Linked DNA regions of Homo sapiens: region 1 is linked to region 2. The links come from fine-mapping of genetic effects on gene expression. A gene starts in region 2. The other region holds a variant in brackets. All regions are shown on one strand. Distances are from middle to middle.

Region 1 (2,908 bases), 77 kb before region 2:
ATCTGACAGAAAGTCCCTCTGAATCAGCCACAGCCTTCAGTGACTTCAGGAAAGAGGAACACATTTCACTTAAAAATGACCACTAGGCCGGGCGTGGTGGCTCATGCCTGTAATCCCAGCACTTTGGGAGACCGAGACAGGCGGATCACAAGGTCAGGAGATGGAGTCCATCCTGGCCAACATGGCAAAACCCCATCTCTACTAAAAATACAAAAATTAGCCAGGTGTGGTGGTGCGCGCCTGTACTCCCAGCTACTCGGGAGGCTGAGGCAGGAGAGTCGCTTGAACCCAGGAGGCGGAGATTGCAGTGAGCCGAGATCACGCCACTGCACTCCAGCCTGATAACAGAGCAAGACTCCATCTCAGAAAAAAAAAGGGAGCAGGGGGGCAAATTTGTCCATTTCAGGTTCCAAAAACTAAGAGAAAAAAAAATTTAGAATAATAAAATAATTATATTCATAAAATGCCCTTTGCACATTAAGAAAAAGTTAAATTTGTGTGCAGTACTTTCAGCATATTGGATCAGAGCTGTATGTAGAAGTTACATCTGGATTCAAAAGGTTGAAACCATTTTGCTATTGCTTAAATCAGAGTGTGCAAAATAATTAGCTGGAGTTTTTTGCCGTTGTTGTTTTGTGTTTTTTTTGAGACAGGGTCTCATTCTGTCCCCCAGGCTGTAGTACAGTGGTGCAAATGCAGCTCACTGCAGCCTCAACCTCCTGGACTCAAGTGATCCTCCTGCCTCAGCCTCCCAAGTAGACTTTTTTTTTTTTTTTTTTTTAAAGATGAGGTTTCACCATGTTGCTCAGGCTGGTCATAAACTCCTGGGTTCAAGTGATCCTCCAGCCTCGGCCTCCCAAAGTGTGGTGGGTGAGCCACACTTTGTGGTGTATTTTTCAGAAGCTTTGTGAGGTGATTCTGATACATAACATTGGTTAAAAAACCACTGGCTTCAATTATCCAAAATTATCCCTTATTCAAAATATCACTCATTCTATAAACACTAAATAACTAAGACTAGTATTTCTAGAATTATCTGGTTCCCTCTGTGATCTAGTCTCTGCTGTGTCATAATCAACTTCCCACAAAACTGCAGTAATACATATAGCATATTTCACCTGCGAATTCTTTGCACAAAAACAATCTATTAACTCTCAACACGGCTCAAATTA[T/G]GAGGTGGCTCAAAAAATGTTGAGTGTCATGTAGAACGTCACTCTGGACGTCACATGGCACTCAAACATTCCCGTAGAGTGACTCTTCTGCTAAAATCACTGCCGAGTGGCACTGGAGGGGAGTTCCAAGAACCTGATTAACCTCACAGTGCAGTGAATGTGCACCTGTGGGGCCTATATATGCCTGGCAATATGCTACATGCTTAATTTTCTATTTAGAAAATAATTTTTCCTTAAAAAAATTTAAATTTAAAATCTAAATGTCCAAAACAATTTATTTATTTTTGAAGTCACTTTTGGCAAAATATACAACTAAAGATGGCTTCTTCTTTCTCTTCCTATCTAAAGATTAAAGAAACATCTTTTGCTGCTCCACATGTAAAATGGCAGCCATGGAAAATCTACCCTAGCTCATCTCATAACTGCTCCCCAAAACAGGGGGTCAGAGATCAAAGACTGGACCCTGTGCTGCTACTGTAGTGAATACTTTTTAGTGTTGTCTCCCATCCCAGACACCTTAAATAATGTAAATGGGGCAGCAAAGTAGAAACTGGCAGAGGATAGGCTCAATTTTTCCCTTTGGGAGTCTTCATTTTATTTTGTCCTCCCTGCTGCCATGAAGGCCCAAAATTGAGAATTTTCATCTGCGAACATGACTATCATAAAGTTCTAAGGGGAAAAAAAATCTAGGTTTCAAATACTTTTAAAATTAGGATTTCAAGTAGTAATTACTGAAGGAATGTTACCAATCCTGAATGACCAAATAGAAACTGCATATTTCTTCCTTATTCCTCAAAACCTGACGGCAACGTTGGCCTGAACAGGCCTCTGCCTGCATACCAATGGCCCTCTCTGGTCTGGAGCGTGTTGAAGATGCCAAGCTCTTATCAGAGGTAATTCTGGGTTTGTGGATTTTCTCGAATAAGACTAAGGGTACCTCATCAAACATACCTACCAGACTGCTCTAAAATAGGCCCTTATTTAGCCCCAGAAGCAAGGGTTTCCCAGCGCCTCAGAATGAAAAGAAACACTCCAGCCGGTCGAGTCTCCACAGTCTTTCTAATCTGGACAGCACCTCGAGCTCAGTCACAGCCAGAGCAGAGACACTTCTCCCTCTCCACCAGAGTGTTAGTCATTCCAAGAAACTGTATTAGCCCAGGCAAAGTACATAAAGGCAAAGTCTGCAAACAAATCTGGCACCTGGCCTGAAGCTTCCGCACTGTCTCTTCATCTTGCCGGGCCTGTCTCTCATCTTCAAGAGCCTCCTGCAGCTTTAGGTACATGTCTTCCAGCTCCCGTACTCGCTGTAAATACTGTTCCAGTTCAGAGGACTTTTGAGCAACCTGTTCTTCCATCTGCTGTCTGATCTGTTGGTATAAAAGGGTCTTGTTTAAATGCAGGTTGACTTCTTTCTCAGGGAAAGCCTCACCTCCACCTGAGGGGTTGCCCACAGCTGCAGCCTCAGCCCATCAGGGTGGCAGGACCCTGTCCTTCAATCCTTGAACTTAAAGATGGAGGAGATGAGGGTACCACACCCAATCGCAATAGTGAAAGAGTCTGGGAAGAGCAAATTATAACCCAAATTATGTTCTGCCCTGCTGTATTTTCCATCCCTTCCACTCCACATTTTAAGACTCAAGTCAAGAAAAAAATGTTTCCTTGTGTAATTTCTCTCTAAATTCCTTTCTGTCTTAAAGTCACAATCTTTTTACCAATAGGGTCTTCTCTAAAAGGAA
Region 2 (2,908 bases):
AGACTATGATTCTATCAGTGAGAAAAAGAAAGGAGAGGCAAAAGGAAGACAAGGAGAATGTTAAGTCCTACTGGCATAAAAGCCACTACTCAGAAGAACGGGATTACTGTACAAAAATATACAAAACAAACCCAATCTTCAGAATTTATTCCCAGAAGGGGCTAAGAAAACCGGACATTCGGATCTAAAATATGTATATTTTTAAATGCCTATGAATAGCTTTTCTTGTCTGTTTCTATATTTTTTTACTTTGAAGAAGCTGCCAATTTCTGCTGGCTTAATGCCAATTTCGCTGCTTGGGGTTACTCAATTTACAAGCATCCCTTTATTTATACCCTATACTCTAGGGTCTCCGGCAGTCACAATAACGACTCTGAAAAAGCAGTCGCTTTTGCAGGGTGCCAGAAAGATCAGCGCTCCTCACCCGGAACTAAGGTCCCTGTGGGACACAGTACACCCCGTCCACTAGTTCCAAACTTAAAAGACGCTGGGCGGAAGGTCTTCCCAAGTCAAAAAGCCTCCCAAAGGAGAAGGACCCTGGAGGCCGGGCTTCGGGGCATTTCTGCGTCTCCGGACTGCCCTGTCGCCTCCGGGGCAGCTAGCCGTTTTGAGGACTGTCCTGGTGTGGGGCTGTGGGCTGCAGAAGGTTCTGCCCAGCGACCTTGGGCAAGTCCCTTCCTCTCCTGGAGTAAGAGGAAAATTCTGGGAAGGCTGTGTAAGGGAGCTTCCCATTGCCGCCTCAGAATCCACTTTCTGCCCCCCGCTCTCCAACGCCAAGAAGGAATCACACTTGGCCCTCCAGACTTCACCCCAGCCTTATGCCCGCCACCCTTCCCAGTCCCTGGGAGACCCGCGGGAACTAACACATCCAACCGAGGGCATGGCCCGAAGGCAAGGGGGAGGCAGTAAACACCAAATCCCGGTCTCAGACCCACTCCGCCCCAAGCGGGCCTACCGGGCGCATTCCGACCCGCCCCGCCCTGCGGTCACGGCCCGCCAGGTCCCGCTTCCACCCAAGGGAAGTACAGAGCGCGCCGGGGAGGGTCGGGTGGGGGGCCGGGTCAGGAGGCGCCCACCTTGAGCTGGGACTTGGAGACCTTGCCGCTGTGGTCCTGGTCGAGTGCGGTGAAGGCGTGCCAGATGGCTTTGAGCAGCTCCTCCTTCAAGCTCCCCATGGCCGCGGCCCTGCTGCCCCGCCAACCCCTCCTGCCCAGCCAGCCCCTCCGCGCCTCGGACGCCCCTCAACCTCCGCAGCCACAGCCCGCCGCGCAGTCACCTGACCCGCCAGGCCCCGCCCCCGCCAGGCCCCGCCCTGCTGCCGGCGCCGGTCCAGTGCCGCGCCCACAGCCGCCAGAGTGTGGGTTCTGCGAGTCAAGCCACGCCTGGTGGCAAGAATGCTTGGCCTTCAGTGTCAGCCAGGACGGTAAACACATCTCCCTAATGTTTCCCAGACCAGTTCGGGCCATTTTGGGTGCTCGAGTACAACACCTCACACAAATGACCGCGTCTTGAGGAAAAACCCGAGAGATTAGGTGAGCAGCCTACCCGCCTCCTCCCAGCGCCCCGCAGTGAAAAAGGGATCCCTGGTCCTGTCCTGGGAACGGAGTCACTGTCTGAGAAGGCCAGAGAAGACCCCGAAAAGTCCCCAGACCAGGACTGAAATGATAGCGCAGTCCCAAGTCGGGGAGATGCAGGGCGGCGGGGAGGCAGGAAGGACCTCGAGGGAAGTTTGTTGGTTCATTTCGCAAAAGTTTATTCATGCATACTCTATCTTGGGTTCTAGGGACACAGCGACGACGTTTAAGGGGAGTTTAGAAGTCAGGGTCAGGCAGCATTTTCTTCCTAACGCCTAGCTGTTGTTCAATTCACATCTTAGGAGGGGTTTGACCTGGGTAATACCTCTCTGTAGTGTTTCTCTGCTTGCAGAATAGGAGATCTGGGCCAATTCCAAATCACTCCACCCATTTTACTAATCCAAAGAGATGGACCATTTAAAAGAACGTATTCGGCCAGGCGTGGTGGCTCACGCCTGTAATCCCAGCCCTTTGGGAGGCCAAGGCGGGCGGATCACCTGAGGTCGGGGGTTCGAGACCAGCCTGACCAACATGAAGAAACCCCGTCTCTACTAAAAATACAAAATTAGCCGGGCGTGGTGGCACATGCCTGTAATCTCAGCTACTCGGGAGGCTGAGGCAGGAGAATCGCTTGAACCCGGTAGGCGGAGGTTGCAGTGAACCAAGATCGCGCCATTGCACTCCAGCCTGGGCAACAAGAGTGAAACTCCGTCTCAAAAAAAAAAAAAAAAGTATTCGATTGCAGCTGTTGAATTAATATCTGTTCGCGGTGGTCACAATGGTCACTTGATCTCTTTGGGCTTCAAATTATCCCGTATAAAAAGAGCAGGGTTGCACCAGATGTTCTGGAAGGGTTCTTGCAGTACTAGCATCCTAGGATAATAACTATTGCCGGTTAACTAAGGTCTGATTAAATCGCCAGGCTCAGTACCTCTCCTCTCCAATCCTGGACTAATTGGAGAGAACAATAAACACCAAGAGTTTTTAAAATGAGGTGGTTCTCAGATGAAGTTTGGTTTTGTTTTGCTTTTTTAAGTTCCTTAATGCACATGTTTGCCTTATTAAGAAAGGAAAAGATCTTCATAAGAAAGGGATATTTGGAAAGAGAAGAACAAGAAGGAGCCTCTTCAGTGAGTTTGAGATCAAAAAGGAACTGGTGGGGAAGAGGAGAGGATGGCCCCACTGACGAAAGAAGGGGCAGGAGCAAAAGGGTGGCCAGCCCCTCACTGTGACTGTCCTGAAGGTTCTACCCCATTTCATCACCATTTGTCAGGACTTTTCTTGCCCTACCAGAATCCAATTTCTATCATTTATCTTCCCCATTTCCAGCCCAA

What was found.
Region 1: its variant is fine-mapped to the expression of SWAP70 in blood mononuclear cells (TOPMed, PIP 0.99).

Annotation. Positions count from the first base shown.
Region 1 is chr11:9,739,812-9,742,719 of GRCh38, reverse strand. SWAP70 (switching B cell complex subunit SWAP70) reads right to left here. Exons shown (of 12, transcript NM_015055.4): 9 at 2,373-2,539. Among named protein-coding and RNA genes, the nearest start is that of SBF2-AS1, 17 kb to the left of the region's middle. RefSeq lists an enhancer at 2,145-2,264. The variant T/G (reference allele first, on the strand shown) is at 1,173.
Region 2 is chr11:9,662,447-9,665,354 of GRCh38, reverse strand. SWAP70 (switching B cell complex subunit SWAP70) reads right to left here and starts at 1,278. Exons shown (of 12, transcript NM_015055.4): 1 at 1,077-1,278. The coding sequence starts at 1,175. RefSeq lists enhancers at 671-790, 1,901-2,100 and a silencer at 931-1,430.